Linked DNA regions of Homo sapiens: all the other regions are linked to region 2. The links come from fine-mapping of genetic effects on gene expression. A gene starts in region 2. Each other region holds a variant in brackets. All regions are shown on one strand. Distances are from middle to middle.

The links. PIP is the estimated chance that this variant, and not a neighbour inherited with it, causes the effect.
Region 1: its variant is fine-mapped to the expression of BCAT1 in whole blood (INTERVAL, PIP above 0.99).
Region 3: its variant is fine-mapped to the expression of BCAT1 in whole blood (INTERVAL, PIP above 0.99).

The regions. Positions count from the first base shown.
Region 1 is chr12:24,891,522-24,901,957 of GRCh38, forward strand. It overlaps BCAT1 (branched chain amino acid transaminase 1), which reads right to left. Exons shown (of 11, transcript NM_005504.7): 2 at 10,293-10,364; 3 at 2,754-2,954. Among named protein-coding and RNA genes, the nearest start is that of BCAT1, 52 kb to the right of the region's middle. The variant T/C (reference allele first, on the strand shown) is at 7,428.
Region 2 is chr12:24,943,343-24,954,253 of GRCh38, forward strand. BCAT1 (branched chain amino acid transaminase 1) reads right to left here and starts at 5,759. Exons shown (of 11, transcript NM_005504.7): 1 at 5,585-5,759. The coding sequence starts at 5,590. It overlaps BCAT1-DT (BCAT1 divergent transcript), which reads left to right and starts at 5,821. Exons shown (of 3, transcript NR_199054.1): 1 at 5,821-5,988. RefSeq lists enhancers at 5,653-6,002, 6,123-6,212, 8,493-8,562, 8,943-9,012.
Region 3 is chr12:24,903,508-24,914,418 of GRCh38, forward strand. All of the region lies in intron 1 of BCAT1 (branched chain amino acid transaminase 1), which reads right to left. LOC124902898 reads left to right here. Exons shown (of 1, transcript XM_047429951.1): 1 at 1-4,398. Among named protein-coding and RNA genes, the nearest start is that of BCAT1, 40 kb to the right of the region's middle. RefSeq lists an enhancer at 1,018-1,740 and a silencer at 7,948-8,242. The variant T/C (reference allele first, on the strand shown) is at 3,125.

The sequences.
Region 1 (10,436 bases), 52 kb before region 2:
AATTTTGTTACATAGTGGTAACCATGCAATATACAATCCAGTTATTAATACAAAACATTTATTTTACTTATATTGTAAGCAGAAGACTAATAATAAAAGATTTTGGTTTTTAACAAAGGATAACAGTAATTTGAGAGTTTTTTTAAACTACCCTAATTACAAAAATCTAAATTGGCAAAACCAATCAAAGTAGCATTCCAACTCATCTAAATAGATGGCCAAAGAGGTTTTTGTTTTTTTTTTTTGAGATGGAGTCTTGCTCTGTCACCCAGTGTGGAGTGCAGCGGCGTGATCTCGGCTCACTGCAAACTCCGCCTCCTGGGTTCACGTCATTTTCCTGCCTCAGCCTCCTAAGTAGCTTGGACTACAGGCGCCTGCCACCACGCCCGGCTAATTTTTTTTTTTTTTTCTATTTTTAGTAGAGATGGGGTTTCACCATGTTAGCCAGGATGGTCTCGATCTCCTGACCTCGTGATCCGCCCGCCTTGGCCTCCCAAAGTGCTGGTATTACAGGCGTGAGCCACCTCGCCTGGCCGTTTTTTGTTTTGTTTTGTTTTGTTTTGTTTTGTTTTGTTTCAATAGAGTCAGGGTCTCATCATGTTGCAGCCCAGTAGGTCTCAGCCTTATTTTACCCAGCCCCTATTCAGGATGGAGTCACTCTGGTTTGAACGACTCTGACATTATCTACGTGGAAATAGCATCAGATCCCATGGGTGGAGGGCTCATTTCCCAAGAACCCCATCTCCCCGAAACTGCTGAAATTACAGATGTGAACCACCCCACCCAGCCTTCAAAGAGTTTTCAAAAACCAGTGACCACCAAAATCTTTTTTAACTTCCAAAAATGACATTAAATCATTTCTCATTTACTTCCCATAGGCCAGCAATTCCCAAAATGTGGTCCCTGGAGCGACAAAATTAACATGATCTGGACACTTGTTAGAAATGAGAAACTCTGGAGATGTAGCCAGCTGATTCTGATGCACATTAAGTTTGAGAACCAGTGACCTGGGCTTGGGCATATTATTCCTTTCAAATTTAAAAGCACATAGCCAGGAGCAGTGGCTCATGGCTGTCATCCCAGCACTTGAAGAAGCCAAGGCAAGAGGATTGCTTGAGCCCAGGAGTTTGAGACCAGCCTGGGCAACATGGCAAAACCCAGTCTCAACAAAATATGTAAAAATTAGCCAGACATGGTGACATGTGTCTGTGGTCCCAGCTACTCAGGAGGCTGAGGTACGAGGTTTGCTTGAGCCCAGGAGTTTGAGGCTGCAGTGAGCCACGATCGTGCCACTGCACTCCAGCCTGGGTGACAGAGCAAGAATCTGTCTGAAAAATAAATAAATAAAAGCACTTCATTTCACCTGTTCTTTATTATACCTTATGACATGGTGAGGGCTTGTGGCAAATAATGAAAGAACTCATTCAAATTGACATAACAGGAAGAGCTGGGAACAGAAACTTAGATTCCTAAATTCAACATTTTGTGGATACATATGGACAGTGAATATCTTTCCAAAATTATATGAATTTATAATTTTGAAGGAGTTAATTGCAAAAGCATCCTAGTAATTTTGGTGTATACATGTAGGGGCTATATAACAGAAAGAAGCTTCTCATTGGAACCTTAGCTCCACCCTTACTGCTGTGTAATATTAGTCAAGAAACAACTCTTCTGAGCCTCCTTTTATAATGGATGAGACCACTGCTTCAAGAGTTAATTATTATTGCTAACAACTGGGCTCTCGCTATGCACCAGATATGACTCTATATGCTTAGATAAATTACTTTATTTTATACTTATGAGATCACTGTAAGATAGATATTATAACTACCCCAATTTTATAGATAAAGAAATTAAAGCACAAATGATTAAATTCCTCAAGTCATAAAGGTTCCTATGGAGCAAATGAGACCGAATTTGAGCCCAGGATGTCTGACTTCAAAGCCTGAATGCTTAATCACATGCCTTCTCACTTAAGGTAATTAAATGAGATGATTCATATATGGAACATAATACAGAACGTATTGCAGGAATTCAGTAAACAAAAGTTGTTATTTTATCATTAATCTATTAATATTTTACTATTACCATATTTTAGCACTTAATAGGAAGACTATTATTATTTCCAGCACCCCTATTATTCTGGGAAAGATGTCCAAATCATTCAAAAGTAAAATACAATGAGAATCAAGACAATGGGAAGTATACTGTGCATCTGGTTAATTGTGCACCCTGAAAAGGACCAGAGAAAGAATTCTTTAAACATTTTATGCTTAAAATTATTTCAACTCATGGCTGAAGGAGGACATTTAATTACATGTCCCTTAACATGCATAACTAGACATTATTACTGGTCATAAAAATGTGGAGTTAGCATTAAAATCAAATCATAATATTGTTCTCAATGACCCTTTCTCAATTATTAGAAGATCTAAGAAGAAAGGTGACTTATTAAATTATCAACAGTGCTGGCTTTTTAATTGCCAATTTTCCCACCAGCTGTCCTTTCTATTTGCTTTAAATAATTTTTTTATTGACGTCACAGAAAATGCAAGATTATCTGAAAAATTAGCTGCTAAGATTTATCTTCAATCCAACTGTCTATAGGAAAACTTTTAAAGACATTTTCGGCTTCCTCTGGTAAATATGATAAAGCCCATACTGCCCAAGAGCTATTTTAGCAGGAGAAGCTACTTAGTACCCACAGTGAAGTGCAAGCATGTCACTCTCTTTAATTCCCATGTACTTACTTCCACTGCATAGTGCAAAGCTGATGAGCCAGGGTGCAATGACAGGTTCTGAAGAGGCTTGATATGAGGTTTCTCCCATCCAAACTCTGAGGACCACTCCACCGTCAGCATATGATCCGTGAACACAGTTCCAAAAACCAGATTATTGGGGTCTGGTTTTTCCTTTAAAATGGTAGCTGGTGTGACTATTAGGTCTTTAGCCTGGGGAAGAAAAATCATCACTATTTACAGAAAAGCTACTGAGCATTCGCTGGCTAGATTATACAGAGGGGAAAAAAAAAAAGGAAATCAATTGACTTTTAAAGGTTAGCAGCTAACACAGAAATTTAACACTCTGAGCTGAACAAATCATGCCTGCATTCAGAATTCGGCCAGTTATTCATAATCTCTGCAATGTACACTGCCTAATAGAATATCAGAACCAAATTTCAGTGATATATAGAAGAGGGACAAAATAGCAGATGGGGTAAGATGATGCAAAAAAAGAATACAACCCTTTTTCACTCTCACCATAGGACTCATGTTGAGTATTTGGGAAAGATGAAAGAGATGTTTTCCCTAATAAAAAATGGCAACACTCACAATGATTTGTTAAACTAAAATGAATGTCATTAAGTACTGAACTGCTATTTAGCAATGGTTACACTCCAACTGCCCCAAAGAATTGTTGGCATAAGCCTTCAAAATCCTCTGGGTGCACTGGAGAAGAAATGAGCAAAGTGAAGCAAATGTTTTCCTCTTTGAAAACAGGAAAGTTGAGAATGAACACTAAGATATAAATCCTCTGTTCTGTGTGGAGGAAACAGTGAACAAAGGAACTCTTATTTAAACAAAGATAAATCAGAGTAATAGGAAACAACTCCCCACAAGCAGCATCTCACCAGCTCCCGACATAGCCAGTTTGCCCACTGCAAATGGCCAAACATTAAGCGTACAAATTGCATGCGATACCACCACTAACTTTATAGCATCTGTGGAATGCTGACAAAAACACAGGAGACCAGCACTTTGGGAAGCCGAGGCATGCAGATCACAAGGTTTGGAGATTGAGACCATCCTAGCTAACATGGTGAAACCCCGTCTCTACTAAAAATACTAAAAATTAGCCAGGCGTGGTGGCATGCACCTGTAGTCGCAGCTACTCAGGAGGCTGAGGCAGGAAAATCACTTGAACCCGGGAGGCGGAGGTTGCAGAGAGTCAAGATCGCACCACTGCACTCCAGCCTGGGAGACAGAGCAAGACTCTGTCTCAGAAAAAAAAAAAAGAAAAGAAAAGAAGAGAAAAGAGAAGAAAAAAAGAAACACAAGAGAAGGAACTTTTTGATCAGTTAAAAAAACAGGGGCAAGTTCAACCTGTAACAGGTTGTGAAGGGATGTCAAACTCCATCTCTTTGAATATACAAAAAAAGTCTTTTCCCTCCCAAATTAAATACAGACCTTCACTTTACATCATCAGCTCTTATCATTATTTTTAAAATGATCTAATTCTGTTTAATTCACTGCCTTGCAGCTACGTGAGTCATTTGATATATTATGAATGATAGTAAATTGTATTTTTAGAATAATATTCAGGCTGAAAACATATTCCAAAACAAACAGAAAGCTCATATTACAGTGACACAAAAGGCATTAAGGACAGAATATTACTGTAATGTTCAGGCTAGTCTAGTAATGCTACTTTGTAATATGCCAATAAAATGCCAAGTTTCAATAAAAAATTGACTTTGTTCTACCATTATTATTATTATTTTGTATTTTTTTTAGAGATAGGGACTCACTATGTTGCCCAGGCTGGTCTCGAACTCCTGGGCTTAAGCAATCTGCCTGCCTCGACCTCCCAAAGTTCTAAGATTACAGGCATGAGCCACTGTGCCCAGCCTGTTTTACCACTATTTAATTCAAGTAAAAACGTTAATTTAAGACTTTTTACTAAGTATAATAAGTTTATTTAAAGAAATATATTCCAGCTAAATTATTTTTATCTTTGAATCCCTTTTCTCTCCCGTTGTCCTCTGGACTAGGTAGGGGGTCAGGCAGACTTTACTTGCAGACCAAATGCAGCCAGCTGGCCTGTTTTGAAATTAAAATGTTATTGGAACATAGTCACGCCATTCTTGTATCTTCAGTGGCAGCACAGCCAACTAGTTGTAACAGAAACCTGATGGCCCTCAAGCCTAAAATATTTATCATCTAGCCATTTAAGAAAGTTTAGCAGGCCGGGCACAGTGGCACACCCTGAATCCCAACACTTTGGGAGGCCGAGGCGGGTGGATCACCAAAGGTCAGGAGTTTGAGATCAACCTGGCAAACAGCACAACCCTGTCTCTACTAAAAATACAAAAATTAACTGAGTGTAGTGGTGGGCGCCTGTAATCCCAGCTACTTGGGAGGCTGAGGCAGGAGAACTGCTTGAACCTGGGAGGCAGAGGTTGCAGTCAGCAGAGACACACCAGTGCACTCCAGCCTGGGCAATAAGAGTGGAACTCCATCTCAAAAAAAAAGAAAGAAAGTTTAGCAACCCCTATTCTGGACTATTTAGACAAGAAGTCTGGCTAGAGTATTCACAGTTGAATTCCAAAGCTAACACAGTGCCTAGCACACAGAATAGTAAAGGGTTTCTTAAATACTGAAGATGTCTGGCTGCTTTCAGATACACTCACAGAAGATGTCCAGGATTTAAAGAGAGTGAAATTCTAACACAAACTTTTTATTACATGAATAGTTTCACAGTATTCTTGCACAATAAACACCTGTGATTTACCTTAGTTAGCTTTTATCAGTGAATGGGGAGGACCCTGGGCTAAGAAACATTTGGAGCCATATCAATACAGTACGACAAACTTAATGCAAATTTTCTTCTACTAAGACTACTTAGTAAAAGGGGAAGGGTAGTAAAACACAAAACAAAAACAGAAAGATGAGAGTGGGTGACAAGAATGATTATGATCCAGTATATATAATTTTTAGTTTTCTGAGACCTCTCCTTAAAATACCCATAGGACCCACAATAACCCACTAATCCAGAGAGATCAAATTAGCGGCAAAGCAGGGATAGAATAAGGTAATTTTTAACCTCAAATAAGTGTTCTTATAATTAGAACTTCATAATATCAGTTAAATTTCTGACAATTAAAGATAAATTATTACATTTCTAGGTATGACTTCTATTTCAGTAAACTGCTACATTCTTTCGTAAGACACATTATTTCTTAATGATATGAATAGCAACCTCTAACTTTCTGATTTGTACCTAAGCACTGCCCTGTATCCAGTTTTGTTTTGTTTTGCTTTTTCTTTTAGATGGAGTCTCACTCTGTCACCCAGGCGGAAGAGCAGTGATGTGATCTGGGCTCACTGCAACCTCCGCCTCCCAGGTTCAAGTGATTCTCCTGCTTCAGCCTCCTGAGTAGCTGGGACTACAGGCATGTGCCACAACACCCGGCTAAGTTTTGTATTTTTGGTAGAGATGGGGTTTCACCATGTTGACCAGGCTGGTCTCGAACTCCTGACCTCAGGTGACCCACCCACCTCGGCCTCTGAAAGTGCTGGGATTACAGGTGTGAGCTACCGCGCCCGGCATATATCCAGTTTTTCAAAGTAATATACGATTAGGTGGCTTCAGAATCTCATCATGAACTTTTCTCTACTTGAAAAAAAAATTCTGCAACTCTGAAAACTAAAAATAACAACTTTTAACCTGAGCTCAAAGAGAAATTACCTAAGAATACTAAATTACTAGGTGATAGAATTGAATAAAGTTCAAACGTAAACAAGCAATATTAGCTGAAGACATGTGACTCGTTTGGGGCAGATATGAAATGTAGTTTTAAGGGAACGATTTGTTTCCTAAAGGAAACAAATTTTATAAACAATTTTTATCAGTGTTCTTTAAAAAGTATTTTCTTTTTCTAGATTTCCTTTCCAAAGATAAATAAAAATAATATTTTGTCAAATGATACTTTCTTCTGCATAATTAATCTGTCTCTTTCCAATGCTCCACATTCCCTGATGACATCGAAGTCAGGATGTTTCACATCATATGTTTGTGGAAGAATTGGAATGCCACAATAACTGATTGTGAAATGGCAAGAAATATTGAGAAAAACAGGGCATATTAAAAACAACTTCCTAATTCAAAGTTTGCAGTTGGGTAATCATTTGTTCTGAAATAGGGAGGCTCAGGGCAGGGAAGTGTAAATTTGTTGAAAGCACCTGAAAACTGTTTCAGCCAGGGTTCAGTCAACACTTTTTTTTTTTTTTTTTTTTTTTTTTGCTCTGTTGCCCAGGCTGGAGTGCAGTGGCACAATCTCGGCTCGCTGCAACCTCCGCCTCCCCGGTTCAAGCAAGTCTCAAGCCTCAGCCTCCCAGGTAGCTGGGATTACAGGCATGTGTCATCGCACCTGGCTAATTTTTGTATTTTTAATACAAACAGGGTTTCACCATGTTGGCCAGGCTAGTCTCAAACTCCTGACCTCAAATGATCCACCCACCTCAGCCTCCCAAAGTGCTGGGATTACAGGGGTGAGTCACCATGCCAGGCCTGTCAACACCTTTTGCTCACCATCGTATAGCACATTTGCTCTTCTCTTCATTGGCCACATTTTTCAAAAATCAAGTCTGTATTACAACTGTATCAGACATTTAATAACTTTATTCTAGGTTCTTGTGCATTAT[T/C]CTTACTCCATTTGGAAAGCCTTAGGCACTATGTTCATCTTTTGGAGATACTCTTTTAAAATCTAATAAAGAGGATCATGAAGAGAACTGCAGATTTGCAGTGTTGCATTCTGTGGAGATATGTGAAGCTGGAGGAATTGGAAGAAATAGATGGCTGACCTCTTGCAAATGAAGAGGATCCTAGAGTCCACAGAAAGATTCGCCAGGATGTGTAACAACGTATCTCATTGCTAGGCCCTGCTGCAAAACTGCATCCTCATGTAATATGACTGCATCATAAATGGGGAGGGGAGAAGAAATACGAAAACTACCCAAGAGAGACCCAAAAGGCCATATGAAATGTTATAAATGATGTAGATTAACAAAAAGGTAGAGAAATATGTCAAAAGCAACCACAGTTAGAATGGTTATTATTAGAAAGACAAAAAATAACAGATGCTGATGAGGATACAGAGAAAAGAGAACGCTTATACACTGTTGGTAAGAATGTAAATTAGTTTATCTACTGTGGAAAATGGTATGAAGCTTTCCAAAAAAAAAACTAAAAGTAGAATGACCATATAAACCAACAATCCTACTACTGGGTATTTTCCAAAGGAAAGGAAATCAGTATATCAAAGGGATATCTGCAGTCCCATGTTTATTACAGCACTATTCACAATAGTCAAGACATGGAATCACCTAAGTGTCCATCAATGAACAAATAAAATGTGGTGCATATACACAATGGAATACTACTCAGCCATTAAAAAAGAGTAAAATCGTGTCATTTGTAGCAACATGGATGGAACTGGAAGTCATTATGGTAAGCGAAATAAGCCAAACACAGAAAAAAAAAAAAACCCAGAAAAACAAATATTGCATGTTCTCACTCATACGTGAGAGCTAAAAAAAAAAGTTGATCTCATGGAGGAAGAGAGTACTCATAGAATGATAGATATCAGAAGATGGCAGGGGGTGGGAAGGGTGTAGGTGGAGGAAGAGAGGTTGGTTAATGAGTACAAACATACAGTTAGATAGAAGCGATAAAGTCTACTGTTCATAGCAGAGTAGGGTGATTATAGTTAACAACAATGTAGGCTATATATATATATTTTGTTTGTTTGTTTGTTTTTGTTTTTGTTTTTTGAGACAGAGAAAAGTATATCAAAAACAAAGATGGTCTATAAAATCTACCATTTTTATTCCCTAAATTATCAATATCATTTTTACACATGCCTTATTACATATGTGCTGTGAATACATCCACCATAACTCATGTTTTGATGTGTAAATACATGAGTGTAAACAGGCAATTCCCCTAAATAAAACCTAATATACAGAAATCTAAATTAACAAATAAAAAAGATTATTTATGGCCAGGCATTGTGGCTTATGCCTGTGACCCAGCATTTTGGGAGGCCGAGGTGGGAGGGTTGCACAAGCCCAGGAGTTGGAGATCAGTCTGGGCAACACAGGGAGATCCCATCTCTACAAAAAATGACGAAATTAGTTGGGCCTGATGGCATGCAAGCCGATAGTCTCAGGTACTTGAGAGGCTAAGAGGATCACTTGAGTCTGAGAGATCAAGGCTGAAAGTGATACCTAATTGATGGTGCCACTGCACTTCAGTCTGGGCAACAGAACAAGACTCTGTCTCAAAAAAAAGAAAAAGAAAGGAAAAGATTATTTAAATTTGAGTTGATATTTTTCTTTGCAAAGAATTCTTCAGGCTAGGCTTGGTGGCTCACGCCTGCAATCCCAGCACTTTGGGAGGTGGATTGCATGAGGCCAGGAGTTCGAGACCAGCCTGGCTAACATGGTGATAACCCCATCTCTACTAAAAATACAAAATTAGCTGGGCGTGATGGCACATGCCTGTAATCTCAGCTACTCAGGAGGCTGAGGCAGGAGAATCACTTGAACCTGGGAGGCAGAGATTGCAGTGAGCTGAGATCGTGCCACTGCACTCCAGCCTGGGTGACAGAGCGAGACCCTGTCTCAAAAAACAGAAAAGAAATTGCAATATTCTAATTTTGCTTTTTAAAAAATCCTTGCTAAGATGACAGCAAGAGAAGGAAAAAGAAAAATAAAATAAAAATTCCTTGCAAGTAGAGACCTAATCTTGAATTCACCTTTGGATGTCCAATGCATGGCACAGTCTCCAGCACACTGTGAGAGAGCTCAATGTGTGAGAAACTGATGAGTCAAGTTTCCTTCCCTCTCTGAACCGCCAGGATGTGAGATCATTAGGACACTCTGTGTCAATTGTCTGATGACAATTGACAGTGACTCAAACAGGCAGAAGAGCAGCACTAGGCATAAAAAGAAGAAGCTAAAACCTCCACGAGGAGGGAGGGTAGGAGATAGACTTATAGAAAAAATAATATTACATCTTACATTTGTATTTGTACAGTTTTCAACGTGCTTTGTTTCTCACTGTTTGAAGTATGAGCTATTTACTATATAAACCCCGCAATTCAGATAGAAAAGAAGAAAATGCAACACTTTCACTGTAGAGTGTTATGTGCTACTGAAAGAGAAAAATCACAGTTTAACTTTTTCTACAAGTAGACTGAAGGTTTGTACGTATTATGGAATCTGATAAACAACTAGTTTAATATTTACGCATTGACTATTTTTCAAGAAAAATATATGACTCAAAATAAAATCAGCAATTAGCTGCTAGATAATTTTTGTTGTGATGAATGTACTGTCACTCTCTAAATGGCTTTTTTTCCTCTAAGAGTGGAATTTTAAAAGTCTGGCAACACAACCTAGGAACTGGGTAACCCACACAGTGAAAATTTCCCCGAATCTCAACAAGAAATGGATTTATTCAGTTGAACGTTGCTTTAGACACTAAGCCTCTGGCAAGCAACTTACCTTAAAAGTCCCCACCACCTCTTTTGATCCTCCTTCTCCGGTACACTCTGCGGAGCATCCGTTACTGCAATCCTTAAAGAAGAATTAAACCACCATTAAGTAAATGCAGGTGGGTAAGCGGGACCCGGGGTAACCTACGTGACG
Region 2 (10,911 bases):
ATTCACCGGGCGTGGTGGCACATGCCTGTGGTCCCAGCTACTCAGGGAGCTGAGGCAGGAAGATCACTTGAGCCCAGGAGGTTGAAGCTGAAGTGAGCCATGATTGTACCACTGCACTCCAGCCTAGGTGACAGAATGAGACCCTATCTGGAAAAAAAAAAAAAAAAAAAAAAAAATTTACAAAGTGGTGTCAGACCCAAGAAAGCCTAGAACCTGGAGAGATCAATAGCACAATAGACTAGGAGTCTGTCTACTTTCTCATTTTGCTCTTTTATTTGTATTATTTATTTATTCTTAAGCAATTCTAGTAAGTTTTCTGATGCTTTCCTTAGAAGAATGTTTTCAGTTAAAGTAGTTTGAGGCCGGGAGCGGTGGCTCACGCCTGTAATCCCAGCACCTTGGGTGGCCGAGGCGGGCAGATCACGAGGTCAGGAGATCAAGACCTTCCTGGCTAACATGGTGAAACCCCGTCTCTACAAAAAATACAAAAAATTAGCCGGGCGTGGTGGCGGGCGCCTGTAGTCCCAGCTACTCAGGAAGCTGAGGCAGGAGAATGGCGTGAACCCAGGAGGCGGAGCTTGCAGTGAGCCGAGATCGCACCACTGTACTCCAGCCTGGGTGACAGAGCAAGACTCCGTCTCAACAAAAGAAAAAAAAAAAAGTAGTTTGCATGGCATTTAGAAAATGGAAAGCAAAAGCACCAATTAAGCAAGGAAGTCTTGCCTCAAACCTGCATGTGTTTCTTCTATAAACACCAGCACTATTCTTATAAGTGTACAGAGCACTCACCGACACTGAAAACCATGGAACCCTGAGTCATGTATTATGCTTCCCCATGTAGACTTCGCAGCTGTCTTTTAACTCTACCTTTTATCTTCAAAGTTCAAGGAAACATTTATTATGATTTCAAATTCCTGAACTCACATCTAGTCCTAAAGTCAAAACAATATAACTTGGTATCTAAATCAACTGAAATGAAATGAAATGCACTTGGCAAAATCACCCTTTTATGTAGTGGTGGAATGCTAACAACTGCCCTGTGACCATCCTGTGCAAATCCACCCTTGGCCTCATCCCAGGATATACCCAAACTTCGTCTCAACTGTGTCTCTTTGTCAGTCACGTTAAGAGACAGCTGTGGAATGTTTGGTCTAGAATATCCCAACAGGTGCTCCTTCCGTCTCAACTTCTATGGAGTCAAATAGAATTTGATCTGTAATCCTATGTCCCAGGCTTCCTAAGTCTTCCTAAAGCAGATATCCATTTATAGTCAAAACAGCAAAAACAGTTCTCACACTGAGGGATAAACCGTAAATGCAATTGATGAAACATTCAAATCTACACACCGAAATAAAGAACTGACAAATGAATTTGTTCTTTTTAGATTAAAGACTATTCTTAATGGAACTAGCTGAGTTTTGCAAGTATTTCACAACTTTCAATAAGAAAGAGCCATATGTTTTTCAGTATGACTTCAGTTTATTACTTGTAATTTCCTCTATTTTTTTCTTTATTGGTCTTCCCTGTTTCCATTCTTCCATTTTCCTGTATTTTTGGGACATAACTGTCTCTTTCTTTTAGAGTTTGTTTTTCCCATTAATTACTGAACACAAGAAAAATGTTTTGCAAAATAGTCTTTCCCACCAAAAAGGTATAACAGTAGAAAAACGTTTATGTGACATGCTATGCTGTATTCATAAGGTAATCTAATTTCCAAGCTATTTTAAGGATATGAGTACTCAATTTTTAGGGGAAAGATAATTTAGCTTTGTGGACTTTAGAGCACAAATTATAAGCATAGTTGAAACTGATACCTGAACCTGGTGTTCCAGAAAAGACAGATTCTCCTTTGCGTTCACCATTGACATTGTGAGTCACTGACAAGGTCTTATGATGAAACTGTTTACCAATATTTGCAAAGTCATGTTTATGAATAAAAGCACCTAAATGCTTAATTTTGAAACATTTAAAAAATGTGAGTTGCACCTCACATTTATTTCTTGGCTGAACTGCATACAATCCCATTGCAGTGGCCTTAGTTGAATGGACAGAGGCTCAGGAAAGGCCAACAGTAGGAACATTTACCATATGTTAGGTGAAATGTATAGACCAGTTGGACAGCTGTTAAGGGGATAATGTTACAATACAAAAGCTGCCTATATTTTTGACAGTAAAATGAGCAGATCAGCCATAGTTTCCTCCTGTGCTCAAAAAGAATGATAGCACATGCCTGTAATCCCAGCACTTTGGGAGGCCGAGATGGGCAGATCGCTTGAGGCCAGGAGTTCCAGACCAGCCTGGCCAACATGGCAAAACTCCGTCTTTACAAAAAAATACGAAAATTAGCTGGGCATGGTGGTAATCCCAGCTTCTCAGGAGGCTGAGGCACAAGAATTGCTTGAACCTAGGAGGCAGAGGTTGCAGTGAGTAGAGATCACTCTGCGGCACTCCAGCCTGAACAACACAGTGAGATTCTGTCAAAAAAAAGAAAAGAAAAAAGAATGATAGCATCATATAGAAAGTAGAGGATAGCTGGCACAATTATGTCTATCATGGAAGGTCCCAGATTCTCACTCTCCAGTATAGCAACCAAACCTTCCTGAGCATAAGGCTGATCATGCCACTGGGTTTCCCTGGGGTGGGCATCTGTTATTTAAAGAAACTGTGGTTACCAACACTAAAGGGAAATAAAGAAAGTTCTTTATTTTCCAACTTCCTATACCAGTTGAGAAGAGGCCATTTAAAGAAGCTGGCAACCTGAAACCCCAAAAGATGTAACTAATACAAAGGCTCAACATAGCTGCCATTTAGAAACAATCTTTCATTTATGCACAGGAATAATTTACTCATAAGCCCAGCCCTCTCAGTTAGGTTAATAACACCACTATCAGTTTTCCAGCTGTTTACTTCCCTAGCTTTATTTCTAGACATGAGAAATAAGGAACAAAATATATAATTAGGAAAACAATTGGAATGTCAGCCTACGGACAAAACTGAGACAAAATTTATATAAGTAGAGAGTATATTGAGGTCAAATTTGAGGACTGCAACCAACGAAACACCAAATCAAGTTGCCCTGAATATATACAGCAGTTACAAGTGGGTTTTTAAAAGAAAAAAGAGGCAGTTTCTAAGTTGAGAAGAATTTATATTAAAATAACATAAACTATATAAACTATTGATAGGCTAAACATTGTTTTTTTGTATCACAAATTCCAGGAACATAATGAGTGAGGCAGTTAGTCAGGAACAAAATGTCTTTAAATAATTACTCCTGCGCATGCGTACGGGGGGACGTGACTGAAGTCTCACACTCCTATCTCTCTGGGCCTGATAAATTGTGTAGCCTTCACAAAGCTCAGATCGCTCTGCGCTATTTTTCTTTTTTCAGGGAGTTGCACAGCTACTGACAGAAAGCACATCTTGGTTTTAGTCCATAGTACAAAACTCAATTGTGATCGAATGTTTTCAACTTCCTTTCATAATAAGGTTTTAAACTCATTTCAAATAATTAGATCTGGTTCTAATGAGCTGAAAAGCAAGAGAAATTCTTGCGTAAAAAAGGAAAAATATTTTTCCCCTTTTCTCTCTGTAGTTCTGAAATCCAGTGAAATTACTCATTACTGAAACTTATCAGATGAAAATATTGGCCAGCATTAAATTCTTTTCCTCCCCAACCCCCACCTCTTTTTTTCCTTTTTCTAACCACCACCCTTTTGTTAGGCCAGCTTAACTAGCTTTACATCTCTGAGCCTAGCCTGAGGGGCCACATCCTGTGTCTGGAATGTAAAACCTCTCTCCCCACTAGGCCTCCCGTCTTCCCTCCACACACACACACACACACACACACACACACACACACACACACACGGACTTCCCTTGCCTCCAATCCCATTTACATGTGTATCATTTTTAAATCCCCATCTAAATTTATTAAGTCATAATACTCACTTACCATTTTTGTACACATGCTACTCAGTGTATATCCTATGTTTCTTATCCAAGTTGCCCATTCTGCATGTGTCTGTCTTAAAATACAAGCTCATGCATGACTTAAGCCCGGAGAATTTGCTGAGGACAAAGGCAATCAAGATGCCATGTGCAAATAACATTTTTTTAAAAAATCAAGCTTGTGATAGCAATACATATTTAAGAGATAAGTGGAAAGATGTTTGAAATATTGTGATAAAACTAACTTAATGGAACCTTCCATACTTCTTCGATCATACCTAGAATACAATCATTTCTTTCTTAATCTTAGGAAATATCAGGAAACAGAAAAGAGACTACTTGTAGATATCTTACCTAGTTCCCCATGTTATAAAAGTATCTTGTGGAAGGGACAGGGGTTTTTGGACCTACAAAAACGCGTAATTAACCACAACTGCACATGGACAGGAAAAAGCTGGAAAAGCAAGACTGTTCATTCTTAGTTTTCTCCTTTTACTTACTAAAGCTATAATCAACTAAAGTGTGTTTTTCATCTGAAATGAAACAAGCATGAGGAAGCCAGAAATAGAACCTCTAACTATAGAAGAAAAGTTGTGTGATCTCTGTTGAATACAAAAACGCATAGTTTCCACTCGGTTACTGTTTAATTGTAGTGAAAGTTTTTGTTTGGCAACAAAGGCGCTATTTACATATTATTTCTTCTAAGTGAAACTATGGTCTGGGATGGGTTGTAGATAAGAGCAGTTGAGAACCACGCTTCATCTCCCTCCTTAGAAACTCTGAAACGAGGCTTTATTCCTACCAGAAGTTCAGATTGCATTATGGTCATCTCAATTCCAAAATGTTAGATGGCAAGAATATCTGCCCATCCTTCACTTTCCTTGGAAAAAGTTGCTCTTCGGGTTTTATATGCGATTGCAGTTTTCCAGTGTGTGAAACTAGGAAAACAAAACACTCAACGGTGTACATCCCTACACCTAAATAGTCAGAAATAATAGGCAGCTAGGCTAATTATCCTTGATTAGCAAGATCAGAGCCATTAGGGTGCTCACTGGTTTAACAAATGAATGCCCTTAGGCGTCTATCATTTGTAACTCCTAGAAGCTTTAATTTCCACAAGAAACAAAATAAGAGGGGCCTTCTGCTTTTAACAGTGAAAAGATCGTTCTCCCTCCCCTCTCCACCCGGGTCAACTCTTCCAGCCGCTCCCTCCTGCATCACGAACACACGCTGCAGGAAAGCGCATTTACAGCCCGGGACATCCCCAGACCTCCTCTCCAAAATTCCCCACCTCCTGTGCATAGGAGAAACTGAGAGAAGCCCTCACTTCCTTTCCAAACTTCACAAGCAGGGGAGGGAGCTGTAGCAGACTTTCACCTCCGTTCCCAAAAGCGAATGTGAAAAAGTCCGAGAAGGCACGTCCTGCGAGTGGAGGTTAAACCGAAATCTGAACAGAATGCACGGTCCCCGCAAACTACGATTGATAAAGAAGATACTGAGACGTTTGCGGGGGATATAAGCCATGGTTGTCTCGCCTTCCTCCCCTCCCTGCCAACTATGTTTCTTGGAGAAATCGCCGGTTCGATTCACGCACACATTTTTGTAAAACACGGACAAAACCATAAGTAGTTACCTTCATTGTTCCGTCGGCCACGAGGGAAGCTCGAGCTGAGCGGAGGGCAGATCCCAAGGGTCGTAGCCCCTGGCCGTGTGGACCGGGTCTGCGGCTGCAGAGCGCGGTCCCGGCTGCAGCAAGACCTGGGGCAGTGCCCGAGGCGGCGGCGAGTACACGTGGCGGGCTGGATTGCAGACCGGCCCTCTCGCGGCGGAGACTCGCGACCTAGCGGATTGCATCAGCAGGAAGACACTAAGGCTGCTCCCCCAGGCCGCCCCCAGATGGTGGAGTCTCTCCCAGCCCGAAGATTCGGAGCCAGCGCCCAGACCCGAGCCTCACTCACTGCTCACTCCCGGGGTGCAGGGCAGAGGTGCCAGTGTTGCAAGCAAATGACACGGTTACCCCCGAATCAGCCACTGTGGGTGCGTATCCGAGTGTGGGGATGCCCGTGTAACATTTATATGGAGACGTCAAGGAGGAGGAAATAAACAGATCAGAGGTCAAATGTGATTGCCATTCCGTCATCACTGGCTCCTGCCCACCTCCCTACTGTCCCCAAAGTAACTTTGCTGCATGCTGAGAGGACCACGGCACAATCCTGCCCAAAAGTATACATGTATCCCCCGCGGCTACTTTAAATGTACTTTTGCAGTAGTCAAGAACATGTGCCTGGTTTGCCGATCTCTTTCCCAGAGTTCCTTAGTCACCCTCAAATATAACCATTTTTGCCAATTTATTATGTACATGGGGGAAAATTTTTAATCCTTTAATTTGAGCATATAAAATTCTTTATAATGTGAAATTGCCCAGTAGCCTAGTTGGTCCCCTGTAAGTTCCCTCCCCACATCTATACAAAGCTCCAGGATTGCTACTTTTCCATGTCCAGCGCCTAGGTCAGCCTCCATGACTGCTTAAGTGTGCTGCTGGTTGACCTCCGCTGCCTCTCTGTCAAGCTGGCAAACTCCTATTTTTGTAAATTTCAACCCAAGTCTTTGCTGTGGAAGTTGCTTCCAATGCCCTCAAACAGAACTGGGCCCTTGGTCTATGTGCTGCACTTTGTCCACATCCTTTCTCAAAATCAATTATTTTATTTTATCATTTTTTAATGGAGATGGGGTCTCACTAAATTGGCCAAGCTGGTCTTGAACTCCTGGCCTCAGCAATCCCCTCGCCTCCGCCTCCCAAATTGCTGGGATTACAGATGTGAGACTGTGCCCAGCTTCTTAATTTTACTTTAATTATTTGTTTGCACAGTTGTCACTTCAGTGGATTATGAGATTCGTAAGGGCAGATCCTTTGTCATATTTATCTCCCATACCAAGTGGCCTGCCGTGGAAGAGAGGGAGTGTTGAAAACAAATGTGTCAGTGCTTAATGACTGTTGGTCAGGTGAATGAATGGTTAAATTATGTGTTCAATAAATGTACTGAGTGATTTCTACATGCTAGGCTGGTATATAACAGTGGTTTGTAATCTGAAATGTCTCAAAATGGAGCCATTTATGACAAGGGTTTCAGCCTCCAGTGAAATTGCTGACCCCTCAAATTGATAAGCATATGTATGGTGGACTGAGGTGATAAGATAACACCTGCTGTGGCCTGGCACCATTGGCAAGAGAGTAAAGAGAGAGGCAGCTGAGATAATGGCTATGGGCACTTGCGGATGCTGTGAAAACCAAAAAGTAATGAAAACCTGAAAGTAACTGACCACAGCCAAAATGCTTGCAGAAGTTCTGCCCTGAGAAATCTGTATCTGTAAGCATTTAATCAGCCATTGAGTCCTTGTGAAACCTCCTGGCCCCCGTCAGTGAAAGCACAGCTAGATAGATTTGAACCTGACACTGACATGAGACAGGCAATGTGCAAAATGCTAGGGACTGAGTGGGAAACAACAAAAATGTTCTTACCCTCATTAAGCTCATATACTAGTGTGAGAAACAGAAAGTAAGCTTTAAATCAGGTAGCAAAATGTTTATCAACTGAGGAATGGCTAAATAAAACATGGTATCATCCATACAATGGAATATTATTATATTCTGCAATAAAAAGAAATGAAGTACTGATTACATGCAGTCACATGGATGAACCTTGAAAACTATGCAAAGTGAAAGAAGCGTCTCACAAATGACTACATATTATATGATTCCACTTATCTGAAATGTGCAGAACAGGAAAATCCATAGAGACAGAAAACACATAGTTGTTTTCAATCTGGGGACAGGGTGGAATGCAGAGTGAATGTTCATGGGCGTTGGATTTCTTTTTGAATTGATTAAAATGTTCTCAAATTAGATTGTGGTAATGGTTACACAACCCTGTGAACACACTAAAAACCACTGAATTATACCCTTTAAATAGGTGAATTGTATGTTATGTGAATTATATCTCAATAAAGATGTTACTCTATGGCCCGGCATGGTGGCTCACACCTGTAATCTCAGCACTTTGGGAGGCTGAGGCAGACAGATCACTTGAGGTCGGGAGTTCGAGACCAGCCTGGCCAACATGGTGAAACCCCGTCTCTACTAAAAATTAGCCGGGCGTGGTTGCGGGGTGCCTGTAATCCCAGCTACTCACAAGGCTGAGTCACAAGAATCGCTTGAACCTGGGAGGCAGAGAGGTTGCTGTGAGCCAAGATCATGCCACTGCATTCCAGCCTGGGCAATAGAGCAAGACTCAGTCTCAAAAAAAAAAAAAAAAAAAAAAAAACAGGTACCATGTGGTAAATTTTATGAGAAAGAGTAATAAGGGGATAGAGAGTGATGGGGTCATAGATATAAATGCATTAATAAGTTCTAGAGCAAGCCTGGCAATTACTCCTAGATCCAACGACCGCCCCTCGCCCCCCTCTCCCTCAATGCAGGATTTTTCTCAGTCCCTTTGCCAGTCAAGGACCTCTAGCCGGCAATGCCGGAGGCCTAGCTCGGGGCATACTACCTGCTGCAGGAGGCACCCCACGCAATTTGCCCGCCTGAGACAAGTTTGCCTTGCACATTGGTTCCTGAGTTCTTGCCCCATGCCCAAGAAAAATGAAGATGTGCTGACAATTGAAGAGTGAGCAAGGCGGGGAGTTTTACTGAGGGATGAAACAGCTTTCAGCAGAGAGGGAAGCGGGGGTGGTCCCCCTACCCGAAGGCAGGAAAGTCTCCTCCATGAGGCTGAGTCCTGGGGCTTTTTATCGGCTCAGAATAGGGGAGGGGCAGGCAAACAGGAACAGAAATTCTCACTCTGCGTCATGGATTTCATCCAGGACCAGCAGTCTGGTCTTTCAGCCTTCAGGCTGTTTTTGGCTTGAAGGTACAGTTTCACCTCCAACCCTGTTGCTGTTACCCCTACTTAAGGATTCTTTTGATGTTAGCAACAAAGGAAGAGAGAAGGTAGTATATATTTAAAAAAAAAAAAAAAAAAAGAGCTTGAAGGGAAGTGAGAAAGTTAGGGAATTAACATCCACAGAAGAATATGAGGGCCGGGCGTTCACGCCTATAATCCCAGCACTTTGGGACGTCAAAGCAGGAGTTCAAGACCAGCCTGGGCAACATAGCAAAAGCCAGTCTTTACAAAAAATGCAAAAATTAGCTGTTTGTGGTGGTATGTGCCTGCAGTCTAAGCTACTCCCAAGGCTGAGGTGGAAGGATCACTGGAGCCCAGGAGATCCAGGCTGCAGTGAGCTGTGATCACTTCATACTTCACTGCACTCCAGCCTGGGTGACAGAGTGAGACATCATCTCCAAAAAAAAAAAAAAAAAAAGAAAAAAAAAGAATATAAGAACAATCTAGCTATGTCTCTCCTCCCATTTCCCTTTAGTGTTGATAGAAGGGCCCCACAGTTCTCCCTCATTGTCAACTGTAAACTCCCAAAGCTTCTCTCCCAGACAACACACATGCTTTTCCCAAATGATGAGGCTCATGATCAACGAAGGTTGTTACTCTGACAGTGGCACTGTACTTCAAACAAGTCACAGTAAAAGATATTTAAGGAAAACTGGATCCAAACTGGATATATACCATATACCCATCTATGGGCAGTGTCTTTTACTGAAGAAGAGACAGCATTTCTAAGATTTCTAATAGACACTAATTTTGAGGTTGACTCCAGAGCGCCAGACAGTCCAGCTTCATTTTGTCCTCACTGTTATTAACAAAGGCTTTTATTGCCATCATTATGAAAAATATGTGCCAACTACCTGCAGAATGTCTTCCCTGTATCTTACTAAATTTTCTCTAGGAAAGCAGAAACTCACAAATATTCTCTGCCTTGAGTTATTAACAGTTCCTGGAATTTGAATAGGAGAGTTTACATAAGGCAATGATACTCTGTCTTAAAAGAGGAAAATCTACTCTAAAATTCTACTCTACACACTCAGAAAACAATGTCATTCTCTTTCTCTATTTCTCATAGTAAAAAATACTTCAAAATTGTACTGTTTTTATATTTCCTATAATACTTGCATTCATTGCCCATTACATACATGTGCACACACACATGCATACACACACAGACACACACCAAGTTCAATACTCGAAAATCATTTATACTGTACTTTTTGGGAAATTTCCCATGACAATTTTGACTCACTGGATTTATTTTTATCCTTGTTGTACACACTCTAGTACCTAATCCCCATGTAAAATTAGATTTACTGGGTTGGGCGCGGTGGCTTATGCCTGTAATCCCAGCACTTTGGGAGGCCGAGGTGGGCGGATCACGAGGTCAGGAGATCGAGACCATCCTGGCTAACACGGTGAAACCCAGTCTGTACTAAAAATACAAAAAATTAGCCAGGCTTGGTGGCAGGCACCTGTAGTCCCAGCTACCGGGAGGCTGAGGCAGGAGAATGGCTTGAACCCGGGAGGTGGAGCTTGCAGTGAGCCGAGATCGCACCACTGCACTCCAGCCTGGGCGACAGAGCAAGACTCCATCTCAAAAAAATAAAAATAAAAATAAATTAATTCCTATCTATTTTGAAAGGATATTGTAAAGTCTTCTTTCTGCTAGTTCTCTAGAACCTCTCAGGGTACTTTCCACCCTGACGCACAAAGCTATCCTCCTTCTCCTTGAAACTCCTCCCTTCCACGATAGGATTCTGAATCTCCTCCAGCCTCTCTGGCAGGTCCTTACACCTTATTTATGATCACCTCATGCCCTCTAAATATAGGCAAGGTGTTCATCCCACCTGTATCTGATCTTGAATCTCCTCTTTATACTCTGTCCTCTAGTGTCTCTACTATGACCTGTAGTCTGATAACTTTTAAAACTATACTAGATCTCTGGTTCATCTCTATTCTAACAAGCCCAATTAATCCAAATCCAAGCACATAATCTTCCCTTTTTAACCTGCTTCCCTCT
Region 3 (10,911 bases), 40 kb before region 2:
TGACCGCTATGTGCAAACTGAAGGGGGAGAACGTGAATCCAGCTTTTAGATTTCCCTGCGCCACCTACCCAAACCGAATTTGTAACTCGGGGTGTTATGGGGCTACCAGGCTCGCATTCCCTAAGGGCCATTTCTGCCCAAAGATCTCAATGCCTTTCATCGTTTTCAGGCAAAGCAGACCATCAAGAGCTCCAATCATACTGTTTTCATAGTTTTCCGATGTAGGCTCGTGATCGCAATATTTAGAAAGAGGACTGGAAAAGTGATGTTAGAAGTACTATTCGGTTTAGAAAGGGAAAGGAGGATTGGAATAGCTATTGTCTTATATGCAGTGTTCGCCTGGGGCAACGTCAGCCTAAATTATGAGCCTTCCTGGTTTTTAAATTAATAGGAAGTGGTAACTGGGGCTGACTTGATCTTGGAAAGAGGGGGAGGGCAGTTTATTCTGGGTGAAAGCGGTTAAATCCGGTTTGGTTTTTTAAATGGTTTCATACAACGCTACTGATAATATACTGTAGCTCTAATCTTATCAACTCAGAAAACCTACACTTTTCCTCTCCTTTATACAAGGCACAGAAAGGCCTCTTACGCTGGGGTGGGGTCCCAAGCTCCAAAGACCACAGAGTCCAGGCAGGTCACGTACCACCATAGAGCGGCGAGTGTCCCTGGAAGTCCAGGGTCGCTTATAAGATAAGTTTTGTCCTTGTTGTTTTGAGACGGAGTCTCGCTCTGTCGCCCAGGCTGGAGTGCAGTGGCGCGATCTCGTCTAATTGCAACATCCGCCTCCCCGGTTCAAGCAATTCTCCCATCTCAGCCTCCCCAGTAGCCGGGACTACAGGCCTGCGCCACCACGCCGGGCTAATTTTTGTATTTTTTGTAGAGACCGGGTTTTGCTATGTTGCCCAGGCTGCTCTCAAACTCCTGGACTCAAGCCACCCACCTATCTCAGCCTCCCAAAGTGCTAGGATTACAGGCGTGAGCCACGGCGCCCGGCCTCCATCTGTATTAACTGCTTCTATTTCCTCCCCATTAAGGGCTTCTGTCCAATTATTCCACCTAAATAAGGTCTCTAATAGCCTTCATTTTGTTCCTGCCAATGGTTTTGCTTCTCGTGCATTTTCATGGCTGCACCTATGTGCTGATGACTCCCAAATATATTTTTTCAGTCCATCTGTCTCCTGAGCAGTAGGTACTTGCTACTCAAAAATCTGTCTAAAATAAAAACGGTGTATCTATCCACCATGTTCGAAGCACTGGGCTAGTTGCTGGGGGAGGGTTGAGAGCATACCATCATCCTGTTATCATGCATTGCCCCCAGCCAGAGAGAAAAGTGTTAATTGTGTTAGAAAGTGTTAAGGAATCCCACAGACAGATGTAAAATTATAACAAGTGCTGCCTGTGCTCTAAGAGCCTCTAATAATGGATTGTATTGACTCAGAAAGGCCTGGAAAGGCTTTCAGCAAGTGATCCTTGAGCAGAAATCTGAAAGATTAAAGAAATTTACTAAAGGAAGAAGGGATGAAGAGCACCTGGTATGAAAGTGAGTTCCAGGACAAAAGAACTTCTCTGAGGAGGGCTGGAACAAAGGGCCAAAAGAGAGCCTGGGGCTGCGGTAGACAGAAGAGGATGGAGCTTGGGCTAGTGAGTAGCCAAAGGGCCAGCCAAGTAGTGCCTTAGGGAGAGCTAAAGAATAATTTTAAAAAGCAAAAATAAGGTAAAAGCCTGACTGTCATACAGGTATAAAATAAACTAAATTATAGAGTTTATTTAAATCATTTAATGAAGTTACCAGGCAGATATAAAAACTGGTTCAAAGAACAGGCATGTTTATAGGTCAGAAATATTGAAATGAATATGCAAATGAAATTGGCTTCTTCCACAGTAGGGGAGAGAAGTTAATTGAACCCTGACCTTCAGATTTTACTTGCATGACTGCATGCAATAATTATTTTGCATTTCTATCAGTCATCTGTAAAATAACTCAAAAACAATGAAACAATGTAAGACCCAATGAAAGGGCCCATGGAATCAGAATCAGATAACCTTAAAGGTTTGCTCTAAATAATTCAGTTTTCCATTGAAGTACAAATTTTTCCCTACAGTACGGTAATATAATTTCTTCATTCAAGAAGTGCTATTAGTCAGCAACAGCTGAAGTAAACCAGACATAGTAGTCACTGTACTTACTAGTTACACTAAGAAGCTGTAGCTTTAGCAGTTTTCAATTTAGCTTAACCTAGGGGCAAGAGAAACCATTGAAAGGTTAAGGATTAGGTGGAGTATGCAGGAGCGGTGACAGAATTGAAGGTATTGGCTGCAGTTTGGAGATTGGAAGAGGGTCTGGGTGGAGAGGAATGGATTTTGAAGAAGCTATTACAGAACCCACATACGAGATGATCCTTTTAATAAGTCAGATTTGGCTGGTGGTTGGTAATAGAAGTGGAGAGAAACAGCCAGATTTCAGCAAGAATGGAGATAAGGTGGCAGCCTGGGCAACATGGCAAAACCCTGTCTCTGGTAAAAATACAAAAATTAGCCGGGCTCGGTGGCATGTGCCTGTAGTCCCAGCTACTCACGGGATTAAGGTGAGAGGATTACCTGAACTTGGTGAGGTTGAGGCTGCAGTGGGCCAGGATCACACCACTGCACTTGCCTGGGTGACACAGTGAGACACCATCTCAAAAAAAAAGAAAAAGAAAAATAGATGATATAAGGTGGGACAAGGATGAGAGAAGTGCCAAGGAGGCCTCCTTGGATCTGACTTGCTTATCTATTTGGTGATGTTCACTAAGAAAAAAGGAATGTTGAAAAAGAATGTGTTTGAGGGGATGAGGAGGAGTCTGGTTTGGGACCTATGATTTCTGAAGTGTCTCCAAGACTGGCTGTGAGAGATCTGCCTGTCTGAAGCTCAGAGAAGAGGTCTGGATTAGAGGTATTATTGAATCATTGGCATAGAGGTGGTAACTGAAGCTATGGGTGCGAAAGAGAATCTCTATGTCAGTTTTCTCCGCTGTAAAATGAGACAATAGCAACACTTCATGTTTGTCAACTGGGATAGATGAGCATTAATATATGAAACTTATGTATATTACTTAGAACCATGCCTGATGTCAGCCATGCAGAA[T/C]AGGTGAAAGAACGGGCATGGCTCTGTTTCCATTAAACTGTATTTGAAAAACGGGACAGAGCAAATGTGGTCTGTGGACTGTAAGTTGCTTACTCCTGCTCTATGTAGTTGCTCTAGTAGAAACATAGCAGTTGTCCCTCAAATGCATCCAAGTGATGATCACCAATGTCTATCCATTCTTGCTCCAAATACCCTGACAGTTGCCATTTCTCCAACCATGTTATCCGCATCCTAGTACCAAACAGCTTCCAAGCAGCTCCTCTGACCCCAGCCTTGCTTCTCTTTAAGCCATTCTTAGCATGACAACCAGTGAAAATGTCTCAAACGCAAATCTGAAGACATCTCCTCTTGGTCAAAAAACCTTCAAGGCTTCACATCACCCATTTGACAAAATGATTGGCAAGCTCCCAGCCCATCCCAGATTCTGCCTTCTGCCTCTGACTCTCCAGCTCACCTTTTGCTAGGCTCTTTCTTTCTCTCTCCCCCCACACATTTAATTTATTTCAGTCCTTTCGGACATCAGGCCTTCTCACAGGTGCCCAAATACCTGTAACATTCCCTGCCTTTGCCAGGCACTGTCATCCTTCCTTGTTCAGTCCCTGTGCCATGTCCTTGGCAGGAACGTCTCTGAACCCTGTCTAGGCTACAGTGGGTTCCTCTGCTGTTTATTTACATACAATGCTTGCCATTTCAAAATAATGGTAATATTTTATTCTAATCATTTGATTAATGCTCTTCTAATTTTATGATGGGAAGTTCATGTCTGTCAGGCCTCTGAGCCCAAGCTAATCCATCATATCCCCTGTGACCTGCACGTATACATCCAGATGGCCTGAAGCAACTGAAGATCAACAAAAGTGAAAATAGCAGGTTCCTGCCTTAACTGATGACATTCCACTGTTGTGATTTGTTCCTGCCCCACCCTAACCGATCAATTGACTTTGTGACAATACACCCTCCCTGCCCTTGCGATAATGTACTTTGTGATATTTCCCCACCCTTGTGAATGCACTTTGTATGATACACCCTCCCCACCCTTGAGAAGGTACTTTGTAATATCCTTCCCTGCCCTTAAGGTACTTTGTAATATTCTCCTCGCCCTTGAGAATGTACTTTGTAAGATCCATCCCCTGCCCACAAAAAATTGTTCCTACTCCACCGCCTATCCCAAACCTCTAAGAACTAATTATAATCCCACCACCCTTTGCTGACTCTCTTTTCAGACTCGGCCCGCCTGTACCCAGGTGATTAAAAAGCTTTATTGCTCACACAAAGCCTGTTTGGTGGTCTCTTCACACGAACACACATGACAATGCCTATATTATTCACCTAGCCATCCCACCTCACCCAGTGCCGGACATGCTGTGGAGAGTTAAAAATCTGTTGAACTGCAGCTCTCTAATATTTTAGAAAGCATGTACTTAATATACTTTGGAATTTTAACTGCCAAAGTTTAGAATATAATAGACTAACATGTTCTCAGGGTCCACTCCACTCCTAGATATGAGCTTCTTTTCTTCATAGAACTGCTCTCCCTCACCCTAAATCTTTCTTCTTCCTTTTTTCCTATTTTCTGCCTTCCTCTACTCGTTGTCTTCCCTTGTACAGTCATAATAAGGACTTTATATGCATTGTGACTGTTCAAAGAGATTGGATCAATGCTTTCCAGTAGAACTTTCTGTGCTGATGGAAACGTTCTATATCTGCCAGGTAGCCACTAAGCCACATGTAGCTACTGAGCACTTCAAGTGTGGTTAGTGTGATTGAGAAACCGAATTTTTAATCTTGTTTCATTTTAATTTATATTTAAATGTAAATAGCTGGGCCGGGCATGGTGGCTCACACCTGTAATCCCCCCACTTTAGGAGGGTGAGGCAAGTGGGCAGGTCACTTGAGCTCAGGAGTTCAAGACCAGCCTGGGCAACATGGTGAAACTCACCTCTACCAAGAACACAACAAATTAGTTGGGCGTGGTGCCATACACCTGTGGTCCCAGCTACTTGGGAGGCTGAGATGAGAGGATCACTTGAGCCCAGGAGGTGGAGGTTGCAGTGAGCCAAGATCACACCACTCCACTCCAGCCTAGGTGACAGAGCAAGACCCTGTCTTAAAAAAAATAATAAACATTAAAAATTTTTTCAAATGTAAATAGCTAACTACATGGGGCTACAGTCTGAGCACCGGTTTGGGCATTGAAGTCCCTTGGTTGAGATTCGTTATCCTGGTTCTATCACTTATAAGCCCTATGACTTTTGGCAAATTACTAACCTCTTTTGAGTCTCATATTTAAACTCAGAGTAAGTAATGGGCAGTGACGACACTCAACATGAAGATATCTATAAAGGACTTAGCAGTACTTAGCACTTAGTAACTGCTCAGTACATGTTAGCTAGTGTTATATACCATGTTTTAATTTTTTTAAGACCCATTTATTTTTCAGTTATATGTAGCCCTTGGATTACGGTATACTGATGATTAGGATATTATGTGAGAGAAACCTTAAAAATATACATCTAGTGTTTCTAGGTTTTTGTTTGTTTAATAAAGTTTCTTTAAAAAAAATAAGGCCCAGTTTGGTTCAGAAAACAAACTGCACAGCTATTATTTACATGCTTCCTGGTTGGTATTGGGAAGACAATGACAGATGAGTATAATTCCTACCTGCCAAACCCTCCCCTTACTCCTGCCATGTCACGTCTCTGGAAAAGTGAGCCATAAAAAAATCTTGACAAAAGAATTCTCATTTGGGCTTATTCAATGCCAAGTCCCATTCAACGAAGTAAAATGAGCAATTCTATGTACTGTGTATGTAGTTACTGTATCATTTGCCTAGGACGGTAGTAACAAAGTGCCACAAACTGGGTAGCTTAAACCCACAGAAAGTGATTGTCTCATAGTTCCAGAGGTGAGGTGTGGACAGGCCCAGCTTCCTTTGGAACCTGTAGGGGAGAATCCTACCTTTCTTCTTCTAGCTTCTGGTAACCCAGGTGTTTCTTGGCTTGCAGCTGCCAACACTTCAATCTCTCCTTCTGTTGCATTGTGTTTTCCCTTCCTGTCTGTCTGCTTCCTGTAACTGCTTTGATTAATGGACTATGGAGAAATATGGAAGTGACACTGTTCTAAGACTAAGCATATACACTAACTGGCCAGGCAGTTTCTGCTTTCTTCCTCTTGGAAGGATCTTGGAACTACCCCACCTAGAACCCAGTCACCCCAGCTATAAATAGCCCAAATCACATGGAGGAGCCACGTGCAGGCTCATTAGTCAACAGTGCAACATCCAGCATCACTGTCAGCCCTGTGAGTGGCTGTCTTAAACATCCAGCCCAGTCAAGCCTTCAGATGATGCCGGCCCCTCATGACTGATTAAAAACACATGAGAGACCATAAGGCTGACTCAGACTGCTCAGCCGGGCCCAGGCAATCTAGAGACCATGAGAGATAAAAATAAATTATTGTTGGCCATGCACAGTGGCTCACACCTGTAATCCCAGCACTTTGGGAGGCCAAAGCAGGCATATCACCTGAGATCAGGAGTTCGAGACCAACCTGGCCAACATGGTGAAACCCCGTCTCTACTAAAAATAAAGGAAAAATTAGCTGGGCTTGATGGCGGGTGCCTGTAATCCCAGCTCTACGGGAGGCTGAGGCAGGAGGATCACTTGAACCCAGGAGGTGGAGGTTGCAGTGAGCCGAGATCATGCCGCTGCACTCCAGCCTGGGTGACATAGCGAGACTCTGTCTCAAAAATAAATAAATAAATAAATAAATAAATAAATAAATAAATAAATAAATTATTGTTTTAAGGCCACAAAGTTTGGGGTGGTTGGTTATATAGCAATGTTAACCAAAGCAGCATGCAAACCTAACATGCTTATTTCATTATTTATTTAAAAACCTAATAATAATAAATCATGCCCAAAAATAGGGATAAAAGGGTGAGATAAACATGAAATAAGTAATCCTTTAAAATATCTTTCTAACTATGGTTATTTTATTGTACCAGCCCTAGCTAAAGGCCCAGTATACACAAGGGCCAAGTAATCAGTAATGACAGTGATACAAATCCTTCTTTTAAAGTCTTCTTGATGATCAAAATTGTGTCACCCACTATTTGTCAGTTCCGATGAAATCATTGTTGTTTTTTTAATCTCATGATATGGTTAATGGAGAACTTATAATAAGAACTGGGGCCAGGCACAGTGGCACACGCCTGTAATCCCAGCACTTTGGGAGGCCAAGGCGGCCGATCACCTGAGGTCAGGAGTTTGAGACCAGCCTGGCCAACATGGTAAAACCCTGTCTTTACTAAAAATACAAAAATTAGCTGGGCATGGTGGCGAGTGCCTGTAAACCCAGCTACTCAGGAGGCTGAGACATGAGAATTGTGTGAACCTGGGAGGTGGAGGTTGCAGTGAGCCAAGATCGCACTACTGACTCCAGCCTGGTGACAGAGTGAGACTGTCTTAAAAAAAAAAAAAAATTGAAAAAATATTAGTTATCATGAAAAACATGACACATTTCCTTGTTTTACATTACTAATATTTTCATTATTATTCTGGCTTTATCCTTTTAAATTTTTATTTATGTTTGTTTAGAGTTTTTTTTGCAGACATCTCTTAAAGCCAATGTCCCTTTTGCAAAGATTATCAGTTAACACCAGATGACATAATCTGTAACTCTCCTTAACCAGGCTCACACAGACCGCCACAAATCACAACCCTCTGGAAGAGAATGAATGCGCAGGGCTACACAGGCAACCCCCTGGGAGCAGGAGCTATGCCCTCCTCTCCCCTCAGGACCCTGCTCGAAGTTTGTGACAGCGTGGCAGGGTGACACACAGAATGAGCACGTGCCAATCTATGTGAGTTAAATACAAATACAGTTTAATCTTTCCCACATGTTAGAGGAAAAATAAACATAAGTTCTTCTGACATTCCAGTGGAGTCTGTTGCATATCTCAATATATACACACCACGATGAAACTCACTCTGCGAGCAGACAAAGTGCAAATTCCTGAGCTTAGTCTGTGGGCTCCTGCACTTGCTGAATCACCTGACTCCCTCTTCCCTCCCCACCCCTCGTCCTCATTTGCACTTCCCATCTTCTTCTGCACAGGGAGGAAACCCTAAGCGTGGCAAGCCTCTAGGTCATCTCCAGGTACCTTAAAAAGGAGTGACAGATGGACAGAGAGACAAACACATGAAGATTCTGGATAAAAAGATTAGGAATTTCATTTCCTGTGTGGAAAACAATTAAGCTTATAATTTTGCGTTTTACAGAAACAGAATCACTTAACTTCTGAAAGGAGAAATTAATCCTAATTAAATGAGGCTGCTTTTTTAAAATCCAGATATTATATACTGGATTGCTTTGGAGAAAATTTTGTTTTATACCAGTACCTAAATAGCTTTTAAGAGTTCAGGTTAACCTATGCTGAGGAAATTAATAGCAAAAAGAAAAGGCCACAATCAAGACGGAAAGGATTTAAGTTTTATTAATGATTATTAAGTGCATTATTTATAGTAGAATCCACAACATATGCTCACGAAAATAAACCAGTTCTAGTAAATACATGATAAATATAAAAAATTAGAAGAGGGCTGGGCGCAGTGGCTCACACCTGTAATCCCAGCACTTTGGGAGGCCGAGGCGGGCGGATCACGAGGTCAGGAGATTGAGACCATCCTGTCTAACACGGTGAAACCCCGTCTCTACCAAAAAAGAAATACAAAAAAATTAGCCGGGCGTAGTGGTGGGCACCTGTAGTCCCAGCTACTCGGGAGGCTGAGGCAGGAGAATGGCGTGAACCAGGGAGGCAGAGCTTGCAGTGAGCCAAGATTGCGCCACTGCACTCCAGCCTGGGTGACAGAGTGAGACTCCATCTCAGAGAAGAGAAATGGTTGATGCCTGACAATGAGCAATATACATACACCCAAAGGAGAAAATGGGGCCGGGCGTGATGGCTTATGTCTGTAATCACAGCACTTTGGGAAGCTGAGGTGAGAGGATTGCTTGAGTCCAGAAGCTTGAGACTAGCCTGGACAACACAGTGAGACCCCATCTCTAAAAAAAAAAAAAAAAAATGGAGAACGTGGGTATTTGGGAAGACAGTAATCTTTTGGAAAAAGTGTTTTTCCTATGAATGTGATATATGTTCAAGAAAATAGACTGACTTATCTGATATATACCTTGTGGCAGCAAAGGGAATACTTCCCCATCACTTTCTTCAGAAGGTTGCTCAAAATCATTGACAAGGGGCAGATTAATAGGAGAAAAGTCATACAAATTTATTTGATCATAATTTTATGTGACACGAGAGCCTACAGAACGAAGACCCAAAGATATAAGGGAAACTGTCCATTTTTATGGTGAAACCCTGTCTTTACAAAAATACAAAAATTTTAATGGACAGTTTTTGTTTTGTTTTGTTTGTTTTTTTAAGAGCAAGGAGAGTATGCTTTTTAAATGCCATTGGTTCATGTGCCACAGAACCTAAAACAGCTTCAAATGGACACCAAGTAAAAAATACCAGTTTTCAGAAGTCTGTCATTATGTATTTACACAAATTACATAATCCTGTATGTATTTACAATTACAGATTATCAAGTAGATAACACAAAGTTGTAGTGTTAATGAGACAAAATAGAATAAAAACACCACAAGGAAGCCATTTGCTTATCTACCAAGCAGGACCTAGCAAGGCCGATCCTGGCATGTGCTTCAACATTGCTTGGGGACATTTATGTGACAGATGGGAAGATTTGTTCAGTCTGTGCTAGGTAAGTCTTTGACCACAGTGCAAACGTTGGCACCAAGTAGATGGTAGTTTGGCTGTCTGAGTATCTATTTGTGAAACTGGAACCCCCCTTCCACGATGGCTCAGGGTTGCCATCCAACAGGCTTTGGGCCTTTTACAACAAGAACTGGATGCAAACCCATGAGCTGGGGATGACTCACTCTATTCCCCAACAGACAATGCCCAGGCCAAAACCCTGAGCCCCCTTAGGTTAGGTTAAACAAAGTATGGAGAGCCACGTAGAAATATGATTGGACAAAAAAGGTATGGTCTAATGCTAATAGACTGAGCAGGGAAATCCAGCACAGCCTGTCTGTCTGGACCCTTCTTGCCTCTCTGAGCATGCATTTCTTCCTTCTGGGTGTGGTGCTGGACCCTCTCTGGAATGGGGGTCTTATAACCTTCAGTCAAACAAAGTGAGTCAGATAATTTCTTTATGGCCTTACACAGACAGGCTGGGGGTGGTGGAAGTTAGAGTACTATTTTTAGGTTTTATGGTTGGCTTTGGGGAAAAGGGGTTTTGTTTCTATGGCCCACTTTGGGGAAGAGGGGTTGTAGTCTTGATGGCTAGCCTCAAGGGAGAATGAAAGGTCAGAGACAGGAGAGCAGGAGCCCAACATTCCCCAGTTGAGAAATTGGGTTGGTAGATTATCTTTTTTTTTTTTTTTTGAGATGGGGTCTCACTGTATTGCCCAGGCTAGAGTGCAGTGTCATAATCTCAGCTCACTGCAAGCTCTGCCTCCCAGGCTCAGGCAATCCTCCCACATCCACCTCCCGAGGAGCTGGGACCACAGGCACATGCTACTATGCCCGGCTAATTTTTTATATTTTTGGTAGAGACAGGGTTTCACCATGTTGCTCTGGCTGGTCTCGAACTCCTGAGCTCAAGCAATTTGCCCACCTCAGCCTCCCAAAGTGCTGAGATTACAGGTGTGAACTACTGTGCCCAGCGGGTGGATTATTTTATAAGCCATTGAACTAGTCTTGC